2 separate regions of the Homo sapiens genome follow, and region 1 is linked to region 2. The links come from fine-mapping of genetic effects on gene expression. A gene starts in region 2. The other region holds a variant in brackets. All regions are shown on one strand. Distances are between the middles of the regions.

The links. PIP is the estimated chance that this variant, and not a neighbour inherited with it, causes the effect.
Region 1: its variant is fine-mapped to the expression of PRTN3 in liver (GTEx, PIP 0.97).

What each region holds. Positions count from the first base shown.
Region 1 is chr19:1,629,169-1,637,168 of GRCh38, reverse strand. TCF3 (transcription factor 3) reads left to right here. Exons shown (of 19, transcript NM_003200.5): 4 at 4,764-4,837; 5 at 5,053-5,131. Among named protein-coding and RNA genes, the nearest start is that of TCF3, 19 kb to the left of the region's middle. The variant C/T (reference allele first, on the strand shown) is at 3,965.
Region 2 is chr19:831,631-847,979 of GRCh38, reverse strand. PRTN3 (proteinase 3) reads right to left here and starts at 6,981. Exons shown (of 5, transcript NM_002777.4): 1 at 6,911-6,981; 2 at 4,354-4,519; 3 at 3,946-4,087; 4 at 1,603-1,833; 5 at 1-181. The coding sequence starts at 6,971. The coding sequence ends at 11. It overlaps AZU1 (azurocidin 1), which reads right to left. Exons shown (of 5, transcript NM_001700.5): 5 at 15,962-16,264. The coding sequence ends at 16,103.

The DNA.
Region 1 (8,000 bases), 790 kb before region 2:
TGGTTCTGGTGGAGGAGGTTGTCCCCGCTTCTGGTGGAGGAGGTTGCCAGTTGTCCCCGGTTCTGGCGGAGGAGGTTGTCCCCCGTGCTGGTGGAGGAGGTTGCGAGGCGTCCCCGGTTCTGGCGGAGGAGGTTGCCTGTGTTGCCCGCACAGCCTCACTGTGCCTCTACCCGAGGGCACGTCCTGCCACTTTAGGTGCTGTGGGGACCCCCACTCTTAGGGTGGTGTGTGGTCTCCACTCACATTCTCTTCAGCCTCAGGTTTGTCTGCTCGCGGGCGGGCCACAGGGCCCTGCTGTCCCACCCCCCATCGCCAGACATTAGAGGCAGATCGAAGTGGGAGGCTTTGCGGGATCTCGTCAGCCCCCCAACAAGGAAGGGCTCTGTGGTGCCCCAGAAGCATTTTCTCCCCCACTCGGGATCCTCCTCAGAAGCTGGGAGCATGTGCTACACAGCCTGCGGGCCCTGACCAAGAAGACACGACAGGAAGATAAACCCAGGGCGGCTGCAGTGCGCGAGCTGGGCCGAGGGCATCCTGGTCTTTCATCTTCTCCCATAGCTTGAATTTAGATAAAATGGAGGCTGTGCACGCCTGTGACCCCAGGGCTTTGGGAAATACAAGGTGGGAGGAGCGCCTGAGTCCAGGAGTTTGAGACCAGCCTGGGCAATGTAGTGAGACCCCATCTCTACAAAAAAATTTTTTTAAATTCACCAGGCGTTGTGGCTCATGCCTGTAATCCCAGCACTTTGGGAGTCTGAGGCAGACGGATCACTTGAGGTCTGGGATTCAAGACCAGCCTGGCCAACATGTATGAAACCCCGTCTCTACTAAAAATACAAAAATTAGCTGTGCGTGGTGGCAGGCTCCTGTAGTCCCAGCTACGTGGGAGGCTGAGGCGGGAAAATCACTTGAACCCAGGAGGCGGAGGTTGCAGTGAGCCAAGATCGCACCACTGCACTCCAGCCTGGGCAACAAGACCCTGTCTCAAAGCAAAAGAAAAAAAAAATTTTTTAAAATACTGCTCCACCCAAGGAAAGGCCACCCCCGGATTCAAACCTCTGTCTGATCTCACCCGTCATGACCCCCAGAGGGGCTGGGAATGGGTCTGAGAAGCATCACAAGCTGCAGGGGCCAGACCCAGGCAGGGCGGTGGGACAGGCTGCCATCGGGGTCCTTCACGATTTTAATTATAAGGAGGAAGAAGAGACGGGGCGAGGCACGGGCTTGGGGGGTCATAGTGACCCTGTATCGGGTGGCCCGCTCCTACTCCCGAGTAAACGGAACCTGCGTGAGGAGCTGTCGAGGTGTTAATTGGTTTTTAGACGTGACCGTGGTATTTGGTGGTGGCTGTTATTTCATTTGCTTTTGGGGACTGGGTTGTTCAGTACAGCAGGCATTAGCCATATACACATTTTTAAATGTAATTTTTAATGTGCTTGAAAAAATGCTGGCCACGTTTCCAGCAGTTGGTAGTGTGGTCCCCGTATTGGACAGCAGAGGTGGAGAATATTTTGATCCTCCAGGAAAATGTTCTTGGAAGCACAGTTATTTATGAGTAAAATGAAGACGTTGAGGGTGGGTGTTTTGGGGGCGTCAGCTGTGTTCCAGGCAGTGCTGCAGACAAAGAGGGGTCCCAGGCTGGGAAGGGGCTCAGGCAGGGGGTGTGGGTGGGGGTCACCTCCTGTGTTGGGGAAGAGGAGAGTGGTGAGATCAGGAAAGAGTTTGGTCTTTATCCTGAGGACGGTGGGGAGCCATGAGAGAGGGTAGAGGGAGGGAGAAGAGCCAAGTTTTGCTTCTAAAGGCTCCATCCGGCTGCCTGAGGATGTCAGCAGACTTGGAAGGAAGCTGCTGCAGGGACTGGGCTTAACCCGCTGCTGTAGCTATGGGGCAAGCTGCTGTTCTTTGGGAGGAGGGAAGGTGAGGAGGACTCCCAGGACTTTAGCCTGAGCACCTGAGTGGGGGCACATTGCAGAGCTGGGGCTATAGGATGAAGTCCCCAGGCCCATCTGAAGCCAGACCACCTGGTGGTGTGCCTGAGGGTTTGGCAGGGGCGGTACACAGGGCTGTGTTCAGGGCCCGTGTCCACCAATAGTTTTGCCTGCCCGGCATGGTAACCCCACTCCTGGTACTGAAGTCTGTCGATTGGGTTTCTTGTGCAGAGGCAGCTGAAGGCACTTGGACAGTCTTTTTCTGTATCAAGGTCAGCCAGCCTTCTCCGGAAAGGACCAAGGAGTGAATATTGTTGGCTGTGCAGGACAGATGGTCTCTATTGGAATTGATTCAACTCTACTGTTGCAGCAAAAGCAGCCGTTGATAGTACATGGACAAACGGGCATAGTGTGTGCCAATAAAACTTTATTTAAAAAGCAGCTTAGGGGCCAGACTTGGTCCTTGTGTACTGTTTGCAGATCCCTGCTGCAGACCAATCTCAGTCCTACCCGGTATTTACTAAGCGCCTTTTGAAGCCTCCCTCTCCCATTTGCCAACGAGCCACCAGGCAAAGACCAGTCCCCGGTCCCTCTCAGGAGGGGACCCAACAGGGACCGGGACTGGGAAACCACCAGCCTGGAGCATTCCTTGGCTACGGATGGCCTCTCTGAAGCAGCATCTTTCATTGTTATCCTCACGGCAGCCCAGGCAGGTGGGCGGCTTCCACACCCCGTGACTGGAATTGGAACTGAAGCCCAAGGGGTGGGCCGCTCCTGGGGCCCTCTCCCCAGCGCCCCTGCGCCGTCCACTCGCAGGCCTCTCCCGAGGCAGCCAGGCTGGCCCAGGGCAGGAAGGTGCCCTTCCCGGGTAAAACTCTGCGGTGCTTCACCAAAGAAATCACAGAAAACCACACTCTGACAGCAGTGTCTTATTCTATTAGTACATTTTAATTAGAACAGGAGCAATGGATGCATTATGAATATTCATGGTGGGTTATTAAAATGCATCATTAATCGGTGGGGGGGATTTTAATAACTGTATTAATGTGGGGGCTGTCCTTATTTTTGTCATTTCTAGGAGGAGGCCAAGGCTGGGTGAGGGAGGGTTCCCCCAAAGGGCAGATTGAGGCCGCAGTGCCTCTGGCACAGGCCTGTTGGAGTGAACTTCGGGGGCGATCCCTGGGCATGGGGCCCCAGGAGGTCCCCCACCACACCAGGCCTTCCAGGGGATGAGGGCTGGGGTGCCAGGAGCCTCCCGTTTGCTCAGTTGGGGGTCTCTGCACCTCCTGGGGTACTGGCTATGGCCGGAGGGGACCAGACAACATGCAGGTGGTATAGAGGCAAACTGAGACCCAGAGGGTGCCGGCGCTGTGCCCACCCCTACACAGCCAGCCCACCCTGGCCTCAGCAGCTGCCCTGTTCACCAGGGCCCACGTGCAGGACCAGGATCTTGGGGTGCAGATGGCCCAGACCTGGCAGCGAATGCCGTGTGGATTCCTGGAGACCACAGGAGCCCCCTGCCTGGCCCCCAACCCAGCCAAGGCAGCATCCCAGCCCCCCACTCATAATCACATTGGAAATTTTTGATTAGAAAACAAAATCTAAATGAGGCGCATGAATATTCATTAGACTTGGAGATTAATATGCATAATTATGCAAATCAGACAGCAATTAAACACCAATACTCCCCGGGGGGAATGATTAACACAAAGGCACCGAAATAGAAGGATGCGATTTGAAAGAAGTTTCTGGTGTGGATGAGCAGGGAGGGCAGGGGGCGGGGCGGGGGAGCCTGCAGAACAGCCTGAGGTGGTGCCGGTCACAGACATCAGCACTGGGCTGGGTCCCCCAGGCCTGGCTCTCGGGAAGCCTCTGGACTTGGGAGTTGGACATGGACACCCCCAGCCCTGCAAAAGTAGGGCCTGTTTGTAAATCATTTATAGAGAGGGAAACCAAGGCAGGGCAGCAACTCCGTGGCCAAGCTGAGGAGGCCCAGGGCCCGCTCCTGCTTCTCCACGGGTGTGCTCTGTGGCCCC[C/T]GATGGAAGGGGGAAGGATCCAAGCAGGCCCTCCCTGCCCAGGGCAGAAGATTCTGGAGTCCTGGGCGTTGCCTGTGAGTGTTCTGAGAGATAAGGGCCCCGCCCGCCCCGCCCCGGGACCAAGGTCCTCGTCCCGTCCCTTGCTGCGCCGGGAACTCCTGCCCCACGCAGGCTTCTGGTCTCCACACTGGGCTTGTTCCTGGGTGATGAGATTCGGCTCCACCCTCACGGGCTGCCAGCCTCCTGCCCGATGGGTGAGCCTCTGCTGCTGCTTCAGCAAAGGGCGGCCCCACTTCCCACACTGGCAGGTGGGGACAGGGAGACCCTGGGCCTCCCCAGAGCTCATGGGTTAGCTTCCACACCCTCATGCTGTCATGAGCCTTTCTCACAGGGTCAGAAGAGTCTGCATCTGACACAGAGACCCCAGTCCACATAGTCAGGGCTGGGCCAGAGGGAGGGACTTGGGGCTGATGGGGAGGAGGCTCGGCGTGAGAGTGAGGTCTTTGCCCAAGGAGGGTATGAAAGCTGGGGCTTTAGTGGGTGGGTAGGAGTTGGCCAGCAGAGAGCCGACGGAAGAGTTAATTTAAGTTTATGGACCTGTAAGTGCTCCGAGTCCCAGGGTGTCTGGGTGTTAGCTGCTGACTGGTGTCCTCATGAGTCGGGCTGGGTGAGGCTGGGTTAGGAAGGGTTCCACAAGCCCCCCGGGTCCACTGAGGTTTGCCCCTGAGATGATGAACCGAAGCTTTTAGAGCTGGGCAGGCGTGAGGGTGACCCATAACTCTCTCTGTCCTGCCTGCAGGTCTTGAGGACCGGCCCAGCTCAGGCTCCTGGGGCAGCGGCGACCAGAGCAGCTCCTCCTTTGACCCCAGCCGGGTAGGAGTCCCCGTGAGGCCTGAGACCCTGAGTTTCCTGTCCCCAGAGTTGGGGGCGAGGGGTGTGGGGAAACTGAGGCTGAGAGAAGGGGCCAGCCTTCCAGGGGTTTGGACTGGGGGACATGGGTTTGAGTCCTGCCTCTCCAGCTGTAATGCGGGGTGGAGGGGGGGCCTGTGAAGCCCCAGCACCTCTCATCCCCACCCCATCTCCCCTAGACCTTCAGCGAGGGCACCCACTTCACTGAGTCGCACAGCAGCCTCTCTTCATCCACATTCCTGGGACCGGGACTCGGAGGTGAGTGCCTGGCCTGGTGCGGTCCCTCTGCTGTGCACAGATGTGCAGACGTGGGCCTTGGCATGGTCAGTGCACGCACAGCGCCAGGCAAGTCCCCAGCGTTCACCCAGAGGGTGTGGACAGCCGAAGCCTCTGCCCGTCCTGGGAGCAGCTGCGGGGAGGTGCAGGGGACGTGGCCCGGACTCCCTGGCACGGCACTCTGCAACTAGGCTTCCCCGCCTGAGCGTAGAGGCAGGGAGGCCGTTCCAGACCCCACTTCCTCCCTGGGATTTCTGCAGGGCTCCTCCTGCTTCCCGGGGAGGGGTCAGCCGGGCTGGCCTGTGCCCGCTGGGAAGGAGGCGTAGGAGTTCTGGAGACTCGGGAGGGCGGCCAGAGTGTGCGGTGGTCAGAGCCCATGCCCTTCCGCAGACCGCCCGCCCGCCCTCTTTCCCTGGGGGGCCCTCCTGTTAACCGAGAGAATCGTGACTCAGGTTGGGCTCGGTGGCTCACGCCTGTAATACCAGCACTTTGGGAGAGCGAGGTGGGTGGATCACCTGAGGTCAGGAGTTTGAGACCAGCCTGGCCAACATGGTGAAACCCCGCTTCTACCAAAAACACAAAAATTAGCCGGTCATGGTGTTGGATGCTTATAGTGCCAACTACTCAGGAGGCTGAGGCAGGAGAATTGCTTGAACCCAGGAGGTGGAGGCTGCAGTGAGCCGAGATCACGCCATTGCCCTCCAGCCTGGGTGATGGAGCGAGATTCCATCTTAAAAAAAAAAAAAGAATGAAGACTCAGGCCTGGTGTCTGGTCCCACCCCACCACGGAACCTGGGCAAGCGCCATCCTCTTCTGAGCCTCAGTTTCCCCACTGTGGGAAAGGGACCCTCCCAGAACCTTCTTGGAGGGAGGCGGTGAGGACTGACCCAGCTCTGCAGGCCCTGCCCAATGCCAGGTGGGGGTTGGTGCCTGGTCTTGGGTATATTCCAGCCCCGCTGCAGGCTCACCCGTGCTGCAGGGGAACGAACCGACGCTTGGGAAGGGCACCCTGGCCGGGGGTCTGCGGCTGGGTGGGGCTGACTGGGACGCCCTCCTCCAGGCACCTGGGGCTGCGACTGGGACAGTGTCCCGTGTGCGGTCCCTCCTGCGGGTGACACAGGAAATGCCCCGAGCTTCACATGCTCCGCCTCCTGCGGGAGTGTCAAGTCCTGTGCCCCAGGGTTCGGGGGCTCAGGTAGGGGTCTTGGGGGGGTCCCGCTGCTTGGGGGGCTGGTAAGGGCCTCAGGGGTCCCGCTGTCGTGGTCAGCCTCCTGCCCCAGTGCCTCAGCTGTGGAATTTGTGGTTTCATCCCTCAGTCATCCTGGGATGCGGGATCCTTCCCTTCTCTGGAACCCGACGGTTTGAGGCAGTGTTTCTGCTGGCTTTTCGTGGTGCAGTGGGGGTGTGCGCTGCTTAGAAGCCGGGAGCTGTGGGGCACTGGACCTGCTGCGGGGCCCAGGTGCTCACCGTGTACCCCTCGGCATTGTTGGCTTGCGGGGAAACTGAGGCCCGGAGGACTTTGGCCGACCCAGCCTTTTCCCTGGACCCTGAGGGGCAGCGCCTGTTTGGGCCCCACAGCGGGGCAGGGACGGTCCTGTCTCGCTTTGCCCGGCCTCGAACTTGGAGTACAGTAGAGTCAGTTGGTGTCCTGAGTAGGAAGCGAATAGCGTGAAGGTCTGGCGGGTGTGTCTGAGGGCCCACCACGTGCCACGGGCGATTTCTGCCCGTTCCCCTTACGGGGTAGGTGAGGCCTGGCCCCGCCCCCCTGCCGGGGGTGGCCCCTGCACCTGGGAGCCTGGTTCCTCACTGGCTGTTCCTTCCTCCCAGCCTCTTCCTCATACCCCCGATGGCCCCAGGGTGGGCAGGGCTGACGTGGGCAGTTCCCACGGCCCGGCCAGCAATGCCCAGAGCCCAGCCATGTCCCACCTGCCACCCCCACGGGTGGGGCCCAGGCCATAGCCAGGCAGCTTGGAGAGGGCAGGCGGGGGTCCCGGGGAGGCACGGGGGGCTTTTGCCATAACCTCAGTCTCCTATGGCCTCAGTTTTCTCACCCGAGGAGCCGGGCGAGTGACTGCTGTGGCCGGGTGTGGCCTGTGGGGTGGGTCGTGGCTGTCATCTTCCCCATGTCCCCCCGGGTCACCAAGATGAGGAAACGGGAGGCAAAAAACAGCAGCATTTGTTCCAGGAGTTGGGAAATCGTTGAACTTTTAAAATTCAAAAATCGGGAAATTTTTTTCCTGCTTTGAGAATAATGTACATTACTCGATCGCGCGTCCCAGCCCCTCACAGCAGCCCCAGTCACATTCCGTGCCCAGTGTCAGCCAGAAGGGGATTTAAGTGGCTCAGGTCCTGAGTAATCGGGGTGCCTGCTTCAGGCAAGGCTGGATCCAGGTGTCACCGCATCAGCCCCAGGCCCTCCACACTGGGGGCTCGCCCCGGCAGGCTGTCCTCCTCCGTAGCCCAGGCCCTCCATGCTGGGGGCTCGCCTTGGCCAGCTGTTCCCCTCCGTAGCCCAGGCCTTCCATGCTGGGGGCTCGCCCTGGCCAGCTGACCCCCTCCGTAGCCCCGAGGCCTCACCTGTCCTTTGTCACTGAGCGCCCCAGGGAAGTGCTCATTGGTGGGGTGCAGGTCACGTGCTCATTCGCGAATGAACCCTGGCCTGAAGGCTGAATGCTGGGCACTTTGGGGGAGCCTGTGCGGTGAACCTGATGCGGTGTGCACAGGCCCCGGGGCTCCCCGCCAGGGCCCCCAGGCCTGTCCCCTGGGACAGACAAATGCCTCTGACCCCAGCACCCCAGGGCATCAGCCCCTCAACGCCTGAAACAGAGGAAACTGAGGCTCAGGAAGGGCA
Region 2 (16,349 bases):
GAGGGGCGGTTCAGGGGCGGCCCTTGGCCTCCACACGGCGCAGCGTGGAACGGATCCAGTCCACGTAGAGGGCTACCCGCGTGAAGAAGTCAGGGAAAAGGCGGGTGGCACATCCCCAGATCACGAAGGAGTCTATTCCTTGGATGATGCCATCACAGATCAGGGGGCCACCTGAGTCTCCCTGGAGGACAGGGACGGCCAGTCACCCATCAGGGGCCACCTGAGTCTCCCTGGAGGATGGGGACGGCCAGTCACCCATCAGGGGCCACCTGAGTCTCCCGGGAGGATGGGGACAGCCAGTCACCCGGGCTGGCCCCAGGCAGCCAGGAAGGGGGCTGGGGTAGCCACAGCTGTTTCAGAATAAAATGCTTCCAATATGGAACTTTCTTTCTTTCTTTCTCTCTCTCTCTCTCTCTCTCTCTCTTTCTTTTTCTTTCTTTCTTTCTTTCTTTCTCTCTTTTTCTTTCTTTCTTCTTTCTTTCTCTCTCTATCTCTTTCTTTCTTTCTCCTTTTGTTTTGTTTTGTTTTGTTTTTGTTTTGTTTGCGACAGAGTCTCGCTCTGTCACCCAGGCTGGAGTGCAGTGCCGTGATCTCGGCTCACTGCAACCTCTGCCTCCCGGGTTCAAGTGATTCTCCTGCCTCGGCCTCCCGAGTAGCTGGCTGTCTTTCTCTCGAGACAGGGTCTCGCTCTGTTCTCCAGGCTGGAGTGCAGTGGCACAATCATAGCTCACTGCAACCTCGAACTCCCCAGGCTCAAGTGATCCTCCTGCCTTAGCCTCCTGAGTAGCTGGGCCTACAGGCTCACATCACCATGCCCAGCTAATATTTAAATTATTTGTAGAGATGCCACCCTGCTATGTTGCCCAGGCTGGTCTTGAACTCCTGGACTCAAAAGATCCTTCCGCTTTGGCCTCCCAAAGTGCTGAGATTACAGGCGTGAGCCACCACTGCTGGCCTGGAATTTTCTTTAAAATGTGTGAGCACCAGCCAGGCATCACTTGATGCCAGGAGTTCAAGACCAGCCTGGTCAACATGGAGAAACCTCATCTCTACTAAAAATACCAAAAAAATTAGCCAGGCACGGTGGCAGGTACCTGTGCACCTAGTTACTCAGGAGGCTGAGGCAGGAGAATACCTTGAACCTGGGAGGTGGAGGTTGCAGTGAGCTGAGATCTCACCACTGCACTCCAGCCTGGACAACAGAGCGACACTCCGTCTCAAAAACAAACAAAAAGTGTGAGCAGGGAGGGGCTGAGGTCTTTCGTAGGAACTGGGCATTTATGGGCCTCCCGCTGGATACCTGGAGTCCTGGATTCTGGAAGGGGCCGCCGGTGAGGGCGGATGGGTCTCCCACACCTTCCTGTGGTCCTAGAGGGGAGTGGGGGGCAGGGAACCCCCAGACCCACCCAAGCAGCCAGGTGCAATGTGAGCGCCCCCACCCCGCTGAGCCTGCCCGTTGGGTGTTGGGTGTGCCCACCTTCCAGGTGGGGAGACTGAGGCACAGCATGAAGCCACACAGCTAAGAGGTGGCGTGGAACCCTGGCCGCCGCCCTCCTCCCCTCATGGCAGCCCGGTGCCCGGGGTGGGGGCACGGTTACTTACGAAGCAGATGCCGGCCTTGCGGCGAGGGACGAAAGTGCAAATGTTATGTGGCCGGCAGAAGAAGGTGACCACGGTGACATTGAGCTCCTGCAGGACCTGGGCTGGGGGGTCGTGGGCACCCACGCGGCCCCAGCCCATGGCCAGGCACTGGGTGCCGTGGGGCACTGGCTGGTCCTGCTGTGGCAGCTGGACTGTGGCGACGGAGGCACTGAGGTTGGCTGGGCTGCTCAGCTGGGGCAGAAGGCAGGCGGCGGTGAGACGCTGCTTCCAGGTCACGGTGGCCGCCCGGGCCGCCCTCCCACCACACCCACCACACCCACCACCTCAAAACGCCGCGGATGCCGCTCCCTCCGCCTGGGCCCCACGACCCCCTTTGTCCCATTTGTCACTATTGTATTCATTCATTTTCTTTCCTTCTTTCTTTCTTTTGAGATGGAGTCTTGCTCTGCCACCCAGGCTGGAATGCAGTGGCGTGATCTCGGCTCACTGGAACCTCCCGGAGCCATCCCATTGGGTGAGGTGGCCAGCCTGGTCTCAAACTCCCAACCTCAAGTGATCTGCCTTCCTCAGCCTCCGAAAGTGCTGGGATTACAAGTGTGAGCCATAGTGCCCGGCCATTCATTCATGTTTTCTTTCTTTCTTTCTTTTCTTTTTTTTTTTTTTGAGATGGAGTTTCGCTCTTGTTGCCCAGGCTAGAGTGCAGTGGCACAATCTCGGCTCACTGCAACCTCTGCCTCCTGGGTTCAAGCAATTCTGCTGCCTCAGCCTCCCAAGTAGCTGGGACTACAGACACCTGCCGTCACGCCCAGCTAATTTTTGTATTTTTAGTAGACACGGGGTTTGCCATATCGATCAGGCTGGTCTCAAACTCCTGACCTCAGGCGATCCGCCCGCCTCGGCCTCCCAAAGTGCTGGGATTACAGCCACCGCCCCTGGCCCATTCATTCATCTTCAAAGCACTTTTTTTTTGAGATGGGGTCTTGCTCTGTCGCCGAGGCTGGAGTGTGGTGGCATGATCACAGCTCACTGCAGCCTCAACCTCCTGGGCTCAAGTGATCCTCCCATCTCAGCTCATGAGTGGCTTGGCGTGTGCTACCATGCCCGGTTGATTTTTAAATTTTTCTTTTGTAGGCTGGACGCGGTGGCTCTCTCCTATAATCCCAGCACTTTGGGAGGCTGAGGAGAGCAGATCACTTGAGGTCAGGAGTTCGAGACCAGCCTGGCCAACGTGGCAAAACACCGTCTCTACTAAAAATACAAAAATTAGCCAAGCGTGTTGGTGCATGCCTGTAATCCCAGCTACTCAGGAGGCTGAGGCAGGAGAATTACTTGAACCTGGAAGGCAGAGGTGGCAGTGAGCCGAGATTGCACCACTGCACTCCAGCCTGGATGACTGAGTGAGACTCTGTCTAAAAAAAAAAAAAAAAAAAATGTCTTTTATAGAGATGGGGTCTCACTAGGTTGGTCAGGCTGCTCCCAAACTCCTGGCCTCAAGTGATCCTCCCATCCCAGCCTCCCAAAGTACTGGGAGTACAGGCGTGAGCCACAGTGCCCAGCCCCAAGCACTTACTGAGCACCACCTGTATGCCCAGTCCCGTTCTAAGCCACATGAGTCCAATAACGAACAACACAGACAAAAATCCTCTGCCCTGGGGAGCTGATCTTTCTGGGTGGGAGGAGGCTAGGAGGGCCCCATGAATGAGAGGAGCACGCGGTTCAGTGGAGAACAGTGAATCGGGGAGGGCTGTGGCTGTCCTCGCCACTTCCAGTGAGGTCAGGGGAGGCGCCGGAGGAGGCGAGGGCACCTGGCTTTCTGGGGGAACAGCACACCGGGCGGAGGCGCAGGCAGGGGAGAGGGGCAGGCAGGGGAGAGGCGCGCAGGGGAGAGGCGCGGGCGGGGGAGAGGCGCGGGCGGGGGAGAGGAGCGGCCGGGGGAGAGGCGCGGGCAGGGGAGAGGCGCGCAGGGGAGAGGCGCGGGCAGGGGAGAGGGGCGGGCAAGGGAGAGGCATGCAGGGGAGAGGCGCGGGCAGGGGAGAGGGGCGGGCAAGGGAGAGGCGCGGGCGGGGGAGAGGCGCGGGCGGGGGAGAGGCGCGGGCGGGGGAGAGGCGCGCAGGGGAGAGGCGCGGGCGGGGGAGAGGCGCGGGCGGGGGAGAGGCGGGGAGGAGGAGTGGCCTGGTGTCCAAGGAGCGGTCTCCCCCGGCCAGTGCCACTGGACCCAGGCTGCAGCGGCCTCGGTCGTGGCCCGGTATACAGTGGGTGCTCAATGAATGCTGGCTGCAGGAATGGGGGTCCCGGAGCCCTCTGGCCGTGCCCCTCCGAGCCCTCGCGGCCCTGCCCGCCCACCTGGATGAGGAGAACGTCGTTCAGTTTGTTCTCCGCGTCGTAGTTGTTCAGAAACACCTGAGCCACCGAGAAGTGCTGCTGGGTGGGCTCCTGCGTCCGCACGTTGTGGGCTCCGAGCACCACGTTCACCAGGCGCTGGGGTCTGCGGGGGTGGGGTGGTCACTCCTCGGCGCCCTGGACACTCGCCGCCGCCCACAGCCGGCCCTTCCCGAGGCCGCGGTGCAGCCCCAGACCCCTCCCTCGGCGACCCTGCCCCGGGCCTCCCCCCAGAACTGCCCACGCGCGCGGGGCCTGGGGTCTGCAGACGGGGCTTAGCTGGGTCCTCCCCGGGCAGAGGGACAGTGGCCGGGCCAGGGCTGGAGGAAGAGGGCGGGGCGGGCGGACAGGGGTGTGGAGGCGGCCGCTCACATGTCCCGCAGGCAGTGCGCGGCCGTCAGCACGAAGCTGGGGTGGATCAAGGTGCCTCCGCAGAAGTGGCTGCCCGGGTTCCCCCGCATCTGCAGGGAGGCCATGTAGGGCCGGGAGTGTGGCTGCGCCTCGTGCCCGCCCACGATCTCCGCAGCTCGGGCAGCACCTGCAGGGGGGGAGTCCAGGCGTCAGGGAGCCCCCAGGCTGCAGGGAAAGGGGGGATGGCAGAGCAGCCCCTGGGCCTCTCCGAGCCTCCGTCTCCCGATCTGCAACCCGGTCAGTGCCTGCTGGCTGGTGGGAAGGACTCAGCGCCCAGGCCGGGGGGGTTATAATTACGACGATTTCCAAAGGCGCCCTGGTGGCAGCTTTCAGTCCTGAGAGTCAGGAAGGCTTTTAAGACGCAGACCAGGTGGCTGGGTGCAGTGGCTCACGCCTGTAATCCCAACACTTTGGGAGGCCGAGGCAGGAGGCTCCCTTGAGCTCAGGAGTTCAAGACCAGCCTGGGCAAAATTGTGAGGACCCCATCTCTACAAAAAATTTTAAAATTAGCCAGGCATGGTGGTGTGCACCTGTCGTCCCAGCTACTTGGGAGGCTGAGGAGGGAGGATCGCTTGAGCCCAGGAGGTCAAGGCTGCAGTGAACTGAGATCACACCACTGCACTCCAGCCTGGGCAACAGAGCAAGACCCTGTCTCTAAAACAAAATTTAAAAAAATGTTTTTAAAGAAGCAGAAAAATTGGTCGGGTGCGGTTGGCCCACGCCTGTAATCCCAATACTTTGGGAGGCCGAGGTGGGTGGATCACCTGAGGTCAAGAGATGGAGACCATCCTGGCCAACATGGTGAAACCCTGTCTCTACTAAAAATACAAACATTAGCTGGGCGTGGTGGCACGTGCCTGTAGTCCCAGCTACTCCGGAGGTTGACGCAGGAGAATCGCTTGAACCCAGGAAGCGGAGGTTGTGGTGAGCCAAGATCGCCCCACTGCACTCCAGCCTGGCAACAGAATGACACTCCGTCTCAAAAAAAAAAAAAAAAAAAATTAGCCAGGTGTGGTGGTTCGCACCTGTAATCTCAGCTGCCTGGGAGGCTGAGGCAGGAGAATCGCTTGAACCCAGGAGGCACAGGTTGCAGTGAGCCGAGATCACACCACTGCACTCCAGCCTGGGCAACAGAGTGAGATTCTGTCTCAAAAAAAAAAAAAAAAAAAAAAAATCCTGGGCGCAGTGGCTCATGCCTGAGTGAGACCCCATCTCAAAAAAACAAAACAAAACAAAATAAAAAAAAAGAAGCAAAAAAAAAAAAAAAAATCAGCCAACAAAGAGACCCATTTTGCAGATGAACAAACTGAGGCATTGAAAATCCCCCTCAGGTCAGGAGTTCGAGACCAGCCTGACCAACGTGGTGAAACCCCATCTCTACTAAAAATACAAAAACTAGCCAGGTGTGGTGGTGTGTGCTTGTAATCCCAGCTACTCAAGAGGCGGAGGCAGGAGAATCATTTGACCCCAGGAGGCTGAGGCTGCAGTAAACTGAGATTGCACCACTGCACTCCAGCCTGGGCGACAGAGCAAGATTCCGTTTCAAAAAAGAAAAAAAAAGGGCCAGGCGCGGTGGCTCACGCCTGTAATCCCAGCACTTTGGGAGGCTGAGGCAGGCGGATCACGAAGTCAGGAGATCGAGACCATCCTGGCTAACACCTTGAAACCCCGTCTCTACAAAAATTACAAAAAATTATCCAGGCATGGTGGTGGGCGCCTGTAGTCCCAGCTACTCGGGAGGCTGAGGCAGGAGAAAGGCGTGAACCCGGGAGGCTGAGCTTGCAGTGAGCCGAGATCGCGCCACTGCACTCCAGCCTGGGCGACAGGGCGAGACTCCGTCTCAAAAAAAAAAAAAAGAAAAAGAAAAAGAAAATCACCCTCAGGATAGGGACCTGAGGGGGCCCATGCTCTCTTCTTCCCCTGATTCCAGCATCACTAACTCCTCGACCCTTTCACTCACTCACTCATTCATTCATTCACTCATTCATTCGTTCACTCATTCACTCATTCACTCATTCATTCACTCATTCACTCATTCATTCACTCACTCATTGATTCATTCACTCATTCATTCGTTCACTCATTCACTCATTCACTCATTCATTCACTCACTCATTGATTCATTCACTCATTCATTTGTTCACTCATTCACTCACTCACTCATTCATTCACTCATTCATTCATTCATGCATATTCACTGAGCATTTGCTGAAGGCTGGGTGCTGTCCAGGAATTCGCCTGTTACTAGCTAATTCCCAAAACAGCTCCTCAGGAGGGAAGGGCTGGGTTTTGCCCGTTTTACAGATAGGCAACTGAGTCAAATGGCCAGGGCTCCCCCTTGCCCTTGTCCTCCCCACCCCTGCAAGCGTTGGTCCCGAGCAGTGAGTGGAGTCTCCCCTGACCCTGCCTCAGTTTCCCCAGCTGTGCCAGAAGGGCTTTGGATGGACCTCGTGGTGGATATTTCCCCACAATCCACCGGGGCCTGGAGGCTGGATGGATGGGCACGTGGCTCACTCACCGCTCAGCAGCAAGGCCAGCAGCACGGACGCCAGGGCAGGGCTGGGGGGCCGGTGAGCCATGGTGGGGTCCAGGGTGCACCCACGGTCAAGCTCCTCTTATAGCCCAATGCCAGAGGCCGTTGAGTTGCCCAATGCCCAGGCTGGGTCCCCACTTCCTCCTTTTGCCTTGGGAGCCTGGGAGTCAGAACGGACTCCGGGGAGGAGGTGGGGGCTTTGGGCTCAAGGTCCCAACCTTTGTGGGGGCGGGGAGGCTGGCTGTCACCCACCCAAGTCGGGGGTCCCTGGCCAGGTGGGCAACATGGCCACAGCCCTCAGAGCAACACATGCCCACGTGCCACCCACAAGGAGACGCCTCCCTGACGAGGTCCCTGTGGCCCCAGCAAAGCCGGCCGTGGCAGGTGTGTCCCGTGGGTGGGTGAGCTGGAAACGGACAGACAGCAGGACGTAGCAGGGGACAGGATGCAGAGCTCGGGAAGGCAGGGCCCCACCACGAGTGCCCTCAGTGCCTCACCTGAGGCCCCAGCGAACATCCTCCTGCCAGTTTTGTCTGGGGGTTTTCTTCCCCCTTTAAGGCCAGGATTCTCAATCAAGAGGTGATTCTGCCCCCAGGGGACCCTGGGCGAGGTCTGAGGACACCTGTGGCTGTCACGAAAGGGGAGCTCCTGGCATGGAGTGGGTGGAGGCCAAGGATGATGCCTAGCACCCTGCAGTGCCCAGGACGGGCCTGCCCCAGAGAAGGATCCAGCCCCGATGTCCACAGGGCCCAGGGGAGAGACCAGTGTTCATTATTTGGGGAAAAAAATGGCCAGGTGCGGTGCCTCACACCTGTAATCCCAGCACTTTGGGAGGCCGAGGCGGGTGGATCGCCTGAGGTCAGGAGTTCAAGACCAGCCTGGCCAACATAGTGAAACCCCATCTCTACTAAAAATACAAAAATTAGCTGCGCGTGTTGGCGGGCGCCTGTAGTCCCAGCTACTCAGGAGGCTGAGGCAGGAGAATCACTTGAGCCTGGGAGGCGAAGGTTGCAGGGAGCCAAGATCGTGCCACTGCACTCCAGCCTGGGCAACAGAGCAAGACTCCATCTCAAAACATAAATAAATAAAAATAAAAAATAAAAAATCCAGTCTGCCCCCTGCTCACACCGGACACCAGAATAAACTCCCGATGGGGCGTACGGCATAAACCCGGGGGACCCCAGCTCCCGGGACTCGCCTCCTCTCTCCCTCCCACTCAGGGTGTGGATTTCAATGTGTGCAGCCTCCTGGGACCTCAGCAGGGCAGAGGATCATGGGACTCAGAGTCTCTTGGGGTCTGTGGAATCCTCTAACCCTGGGGTGATTCTGCCCCCAGGGGTCCCTGTGTGAGGCCTGGAGACATCCGTGGTTGTCACGACTTGGAGGGAGCTCCTGGCAGGGCCCTGCAGTGCCCAGGATGGCCCCGCCGCAGAGACAAATCCAGCCCCCATGTCTGCAGTGCCGGAAACGGGGGAAAGCCGAGGACAGAGGATAAAATTATTTATTTATAACTGAACGGTTTAAACCTACAGTGAAATGGAGAGAAGCACTGAATGAACTTGGAGGCCAAAAAGAAAAAAAGCTTTTTAACGTTTCATTTGGAAAGGATTTCACGCTTACAGAAGTCCAAAGGGTCCAAACTCCCTCCCCGCTCCCCAAACTCCCTCCCCCGGCCTCCCTCCCCCAGCTTCCCTAAATTCTGTCCTCTTGCTCAACCCTCCAGGCTGTGATCGAAGCCAGGGCGCGAAAGTTGATTCCAAATGGCCCCCTCTGCCCCAGCCCCCTGAGTATCACCAGCCACCCTTTGCTGGGTCCTGGGTACACAAGCCACCCATCTTCAGATGTCAGGGTCTCCTCCAGCGGGCGCAGTCCCTCTGCCCTCCCTCAGCCCTTGGGACCATTGAGGAGAGCTGGTGGTCACTCTGCAGAGCGTCCCTCCGTGGGGATGGTCCTGGGTGGCCTCAGGACTCAATGGAGGGAGTCCCGGGCGTGGCGTGTGTCTGTCTCAGGCCCCCCACGTCGAAGCCCATGGCTTCGGCCTGTCTCGTGCTGATGGTAATAACCTTGACCACGTGGTCAGGGCATCTGCCGGTTCCTGCACTGTCCAGTTACTGTTTTCCCCTTTGGATTTTTTTTTTTTTTTGAGACAGAGTCTCGCTCTGTCACCAGGCTGGAGAGCAGTGGTGCGATCTCAGCTCACTGCAATCTCCGCCTCCCGGGTTCAAACAATTCTCCTGCCTCAGCCTCCTGTATAGCTGGGATTATAGACGCCCACCACCACGCCTGGCTAATTTTTTTTTTTTTTTGTATTTTTAGTAAAGACGGGGTTTCACTATATTGGCCAGGCTGGTCTCGAACTCCTGACCTCAGGTGACCCGCCCGTAATCCCGCCAAAGTGCTGGGAACACAGGTGTGAGCCACTGCACCTGGCTATATTAATGTATATAACATAGATGTATACATAAAATATGTAGCATGTATATTATTTACATTATATAATATATAATATTTTAAAATATACATATATATTTTTTGAGACAGGGTCTGGCTGTGTCACCCAGGCTGGAGTGCAGTGGTGTAATCATGGCTCACTGCAGCCTCGACCTCCTGGGCTCAAGCAATTCTCCTGCCTCAACCCCCCAAGTAGCTGGGACCACAGGCATGCTCCACCATGTCCAGCTAAAGTTTTTCTTTCTTTTTTTTTTTTTTTTTGGTTGGCTGTTTAATTTTTTGTAGAAATGGGGTCTTGCTATGTTGCCCTGGCTGGTCTTGAACTGCCAGCCTTCAGGGACGCTCCTGCCTTGACCTCCCCAAATGCTGGGATCACAGGCATGAGCCACCATGACCGACCTGATGTGTATTAAAGAACTAGAGCTGTGGGCCGGGCGCGGTGGCTCACGCCTGTAATCCCAGCACTTTGGGAGGCCGAGGCGGGCGGATCACGAGGTCAGGAGATCGAGACCATCCTGGCTAACACGGTGAAACCCCGTTTCTACTAAAAATACAAAAAATTAGCCGGGCGTGGTAGCGGGCGCCTGTAGTCCCAGCTACTCGGGAGGCTGAGGCAGGAGAATGGCGTGAACCCGGGAGGCGGAGCTTGCAGTGAGCAGAGATTGTGCCACTGCACTCCAGCCTGGGCGACAGAGCGAGACTCCGTCTCAAAAAAAAAAAAAAGAAAAAGAACTAGAGCTGTGGCCGGGCGCGGTGGCTGTTGCCTGTAATCCCAGCACTTTGGGAGGCTGAGGCAGATGGATCACAAGGTCAGGAGTTCAAGACCAGCCTGGGCAACATGGTGAAACCCCGACTCTACTAAAAATACAAAAATTAGCTGGGTGTGGTGGCAGATGCCTGTAATCCCAGCTACTTGGGAGGCTGAGGGAGGAGAATTACTTGAACCCGGGAGGTGGAGGGGGCAGTGAGCTGAGATCGCGTCACTGCACTCCAGCCTGGGCAACAGAGCGAGACACCGTCTCAAAATAAAAGGGTTATTCTCATTCAACAAAAGTGCTGTTGGTTTCAGCCATGAGTCAGCTCATGCTGAGGCAAGCTGTTTGGCTTGCAGTCCTCAGTTTCCCCACCTGTAAAGGCGGGTGAGGACGGTAATAGGACCTTCTGCAGGGCAGCAGTGGGGGTCGACGGATTTGAGGTTTCTTGATTTGTTTTTACATGGAGTTTTGTTCTTGTCACCCAGGCTGGAGTGCAGTGGTGTGACCTTGGCTTCCTGGGTTCAAGCCATTCTCCTGCGTCAGCCTCCTAAGTAGCTGGGATTACAGGCACCTGCCACCACGCCTGAATAATTTGTTTTTTGTATTTGTAGTAGAGACGGGATTTCACCATGTTGGCCAGGCTGGTCTCGAACTCCTGACCTCAGGTGATCCGCCGGCCTCAGCCTCCCAAAGTGCTGGGATTACAGGCGTGAGCCACCGCGCCCTGCCTTTTTTTTTTTTTAATAGAGAGGGGTCTTGCTATGCTGCCCAGGCTCGTCTGGAACTCCTGGGCTCCAGCGATCCTCCCCCACCATCTGGCCACTACCGAATTGTTAAGTGGGTGAATTGCTTGGTGTGTGTGAAGGACATCTCAATAAAGCTGTCAACCAAAAAAAAAAGAAAAGAAAGAAAAGAAAGACCTTGCACACACACTGCTGGATCTAGCACACGCGAGAGCTGCCCAGGGGGCTGCCCCGTCCTCACTGTACGTGGGCTTCCCCGTCAGGATCTGTTTCCACGCAAGGCTGATGCAGCCCGGTCCTGACCGGAGGGTCCCAGCACCGTCCCGCGGGCCCCGGGTCCTCCAGGCTCCCTGTGCGTCCTGGGGGGACTCAAAAGCACAGGCCAGGGCGACAGGAGCGCTGGGAGCGGGTAGCAGGGAGGGTTCCGTGGAACACGCTGGGGGCTTTGCAGGGGTCGGCCTGGGGGCAGAGGTAGTGGGGGCCCCTTCCTGTACCAACCGTAGGTGGCGCAACTGGTAACGGCTTCAGGGATCGCAGGTGACGCCGCCTGGGGCCGAGGGGAGACCCATGCGGGGCTCAGGCCTGTGTCTCTGTCTCTGTCTCTCTCCCCGCCCTCTTTCTGTCTCCTTCTCTGTCTCTGTCTCTGTCTCCCTCTGTCTCTGTCTCTCTGTCTCAGTCTGTCTCTGTCTCCCTATATCTGTCTGTCTCTTCATCTCTGTGTCTGTGTCTGTGTCTCTCTGTGTCATCGCTGTCTCCCTTTTTTAAAACTATCTCTCTCAGTCTCTCTGGCTCTGTCCCTCTTTTTCCGTCTCTCTCTGTCTCTGTGTCTCTGTCCGTCTCTGTCTCTCCATCTTTCTTGTTCTCTCTTTTTTCTCTCCTCTACTACTTTCTTTTTCTTTCTTTCTTTCTTTTTTTTTTTGAGATGAAGTCTTGCTCTGTTGCCCAGGCTGGAGTGCAGTGGCGCGATCTCGGCTCACTGCAAGCTCCGCCTCCTGGGTACAAGCGATTCTCCTGCCTCAGCCTCCTGAATAGCTGGGATTACAGGCGCCCACCACCACACCCAGCTAATTTTTGTATTTTTAGTAGAGACGAGGTTTCACCATGTTGGCCAGGCTGGTCTCGAACTCCTGACCTCAGGTGATCCACCCGCCTCGGCCTCCCAAAGTGCTGGGATGACAGGCGTGAGCCACTGTGCCCGGCCTCCTTTCCTCTCCTCTTTATAAAGGAAAACCTTCTCTCCCTGAGTGACGGGAAGATGCTGGTTCGCCCGCGAGGCTCAGCCTCGCAGTGGTTGTGTTTTGTGTGTGTTTTGTGCCGACCGTTGACCTTCCCGTGTGCTTGGGGCCCTGACACCCGGCCGCCTTCCACACCCCCCAGGCCCATCCACCCACCTGTCCCCTGATGCCCCCTCTCACGGGATTTCTAAGCCAAACCCAGACATTTCACAATCTGTTCTGAGAATTCCGAAAATTTAAAAACCTTCTCAAGACACCAGTGAGTGGGGCCGGGTAGAGGGGCACAGAGAAGAAACAGAACAGCTGTTTTTAGCCTGAGCACAGCTGGCTCTGCCAGGAGGCTGCACGCGTCGGGGCCTGGACGGGGCTGCGGGGTGGGGGCTGCACGCACGCGTCGGGGCCTGGACGGGGCTGCGGGGTGGGGGCTGCACGCGTCGGGGCCTGGACGGGGCTGCGGGGTGGCGGGTGGGTCCACGGATGGGACCCCGTTCTATGTCCCTGAAATCCGAGGCGCGGAGAGGACTCGGGCTGCCCACAGTCACACGCAGCCCCGCTCTGAGGGCCCTGCAGCCGGGCTGACCGCTACCAGGGGAACCCGAGAACAGCACCCTTGGGCCCAGGAAGGGGGAGCAGCAGGGGCTGGGGGGAGGAGGGCAGAAACCGCCTCTGGCAGGAATCCCGCCCCAGCAGGGGGACCCTCATGACCGAACGTGGCCCCGAGCCGGGGGCACCAGAAGCCCTTGAACCCCAATCCTGCCTTGGGCCTCAGTTTCCCCATCTGAACAATGATCAGGCAGTGGCTTTGCCTCTCCAAACCCAGGCAGGGCCCCCACCGGCTGGGCTCCTGAGCCATTGGCACCCCTCTCTAGGCTTAGTTTCCCCCTCTGTAAAGAGAACCCGTTGGCCGGGCGCGGTGGCTCACGCCTGTCATCCCAGCACTTTGGGAGGCTGAGGCGGGCGGATCACGAGGTCAGGAGATCGAGACCATCCTGGCTAACACGGTGAAACCCCGTCTCTACTAAAAATACAAAAAATTAGCCGGGCACGGTGGCGGGTGCCTGTAGTCCCAGCTACTCGGGAGGCTGAGGCAGGAGAATGGCGTGAACCCGGGAGGTGGAGGTTGCAGTGAGCCGAGATCGCGCCACTGGACTCCAGCCTGGGCGACAGAGCGAGACTCCGTCTCAAAAAAAAAAAAAAAAAAGGACCCGTTATACCCACAAAAGAAAGAAAAGCAGCAGTTCCAACACAAACCTGCACATGAGTGTCCACAGCAGTGAGGGTCACAGTGGCCGGAAGTGGAGAGGCTCAGACGTCCATCCACAGGGGCCTCGAGCAGCACAGTGAGGCCTCCAGGCGTGGCAACAGGACGCAGCCGTGAAACGGACCCAGCTGTGACCCGACCACGGCGCGGAGGCACCGTGAGGACGTCACGCTCCGTGAGAGACGCCGGACACGAAAGACCACATAGTGTGTGATCCCATTGCTATGAAATGTCCAGGACAAGCCCATCCACAGAGACAGGAAGAGGACGCGTGGGTGCCGCGGACTGGGGAGGGGACAGGGAGTGACGGCTGATGGGGACAGGGATTCCTTTGGCGGTGATGAAATATTCTGGAACTCAACAGAGGTCATGACCACACAACATTGTGAGTGTACCGAAGACCATTGAATTGCACACTTCATTTTATTTTATTTTATTTTTTATTTTATTGAGACAGAGTCTCACTCTATCCCCTAGCCTGCAGTGCGGTGGCTCAATCTTGGCTCACTGCAAGCTCCGCCTCCCGGGTTCATGCCACTCTCCTGCCTCAGCCTCCCGACTAGCTGAGATTACAGGTGCATGCCACCATGCCAGGCTAATTTTTTGTATTTTTAGTACAGACAGGGTTTCACCATGTTGGGCAGGCTGGTCTCAAACTCCTGACCTCAGGTGATTTGCCAGCCTCGGCCTCCCAAAGTGCTGGGATTATAGGTGTGGGCCACCACGCCCGGCTGTACACACTTTAAAAGAGTGAATTCTAAGGCCGGGCACGGTTGCTGAAGCCTGGGAGGCTGAGGCTACAGTGAGCCTTGATCACGCCACTGCACTCCAGCCTGGGCATCAGAGAAAGACCGTGTCTCAAAAATAAATGAAATAAGGTCAGGCGCGGTGGCTCACGCCTGTAATCCCAGCACTTTGGGAGGCTGAGATGGGTAGATCACCTGAATTCAAGAGTTCAAGACCAGCCTGGTCGACATAATGAAACCCCATCTCTACTAAAAAATATATATATATAAATTGGCTAGGCATTGTGGCTCACACCTGTAGTCCCAGCTACTCAGGAGGCTGAGGCAGGAGAATTGCTTGAACTGGGGGCGCAGAGGTTGCAGTGAGCCGAGATCGCGCCACTGCACTCCAGCCTGGGTGACAGAGGGAGACTCTGTCTCAAATAAATAAATAAATGAGATAAAAATAGCTCACTGCATCCTCAACCTCTTGGGCTAAAGTGATCTTCCCACTTTAGCCTCCTCAATAGCTGAGACTACAGGTTCTTCTTCTTCTTCTTCTTCCTTCTTCTTCTTCTTCTTCTTCTTCTTCTTCTTCTTCTTCTTATTATTATTATTATTATTATTATTATTATTATTATCATTTTAAGAGACTGGGTCTTGCTCTGTGGACCACGCTGGAGTGCAGTGGTGCGATCACGGCTCACTGCAACCTCCACCTCCTGGACTCAAGCAATCTTCCCACCTCAGCCTCCAGAGTAGCTGGGACGACAGGTGCCACTTACCCGGCTTTTTTTTTTTTTTTTTGAGACGGAGTCTTGCTCTGTCACCAGGCTGGAGTGCAGTGGCGTGATCTCGGCTCACTGCAATCTCCACCTCCCGGGTTCAAGCAATTCTCCTGCCTCAGCCTCCCGAGTAGCTGGGACTACAGGCGCCCGCCACCACGCCTGGCTAATTTTTTGTATTTTTAGTAGAAACGGGGTTTCACCGTGTTAGCCAGGATGGTCTCGATCTCCTGACCTCGTGATCCGCCCGCCTTGGCCTCCTAAAGTGCTGGGATTACAGGCATGAGCCACTGTGCCCGGCCTCTCCTGTGTAATTTTAATAATTTTAAAAATTATTTTTGTAGAGACATGGTTTCACTACGTTGCCCAGGCTGGTCTCAAACTCCTGGGCTCAAACGATGCTCCCACCTTGGCCTCCCAAAGTGCTGAGATTACAGATGTGACTGCCACATCCAGCCATCATATTCATATTTTATTCTGTATTATTTATATATACAATTATATTTATTATTTCATATTCACGTTTTACTGTTTCTATTGGATCCAAGAGGAGAATGTTCCCCGTTTTCTCCCGTGGTTTTTGTTTTTTTTTGAGCTGGAGTCTCGCTGTCGCCCAGGCTGGAGTGCAGTGGCGCCATCTCGGTTCGCTGCAACCTCCGCCTCCCGGGTTCAGGTGATTCTCCTGCCTCAGCCTCCCAAGTAACTGGGATTACAGGCGCCCGCCATCATGCCCGGCTAATTTTTGTATTTTTATAGAGATGGGGTTTCACCAGGTTGGCCGGGCTGGTCTTGAACTCCTGACCTCAGGTGATCCGCCCACCTCGGCCTCCCAAAGTGCTGGGCGGCATTCACTGTGTGACCTCTGGGCAGCCACCCAACCTCTCTGAACCTGGGCCTCCCCCCAACACCCCGCTGTCGGGTGCAGATAACACCAGCCCCTGCTTCCCGGGCTTTGAGGGAATCTCTGAACATCTGACATCTGCACAGGCAGTGCACCTGCGGTGGGTGCCCCTAAGGCCGGTGAAGGTGCCACTCACGCGTCCCCACAGCCCCCTCCCCCACCAATGAACAGAAACCAGGAGCAGAGGAGAGATCGGCTTCTTTATTACAGCCAGGGCCCCTCTGGCCGGAGCGGGGGCAGGGGCGGGGCCGTGGGAGGTGGGTGCGGAGCGCCGGAGGTGTGGAGGGCGGGGCTGGGCTCCATGGGAGGTCACAGGCCCCCCTAGGCTGGCCCCGGTCCCGGGTTGTTGAGAACACCATCGATCCAGTCTCGGAAGAGCGCCACTCGGGTGAAGAAGTCAGGGCCTCGGCCACAGGGCCCCAGGGAAAAGGAGGCCACGCCGTGGGCCAGGCCCTCGCAGACGAGGGGGGTGCCCCCGTCCCCCTGGGCAGGCAGCAGCTGTGTCAGGGCGTCCCAGGGCCTGGCTCCCACGCCACCCCAGAACTGCAGAGGCCTCTTGCTGCCCCTG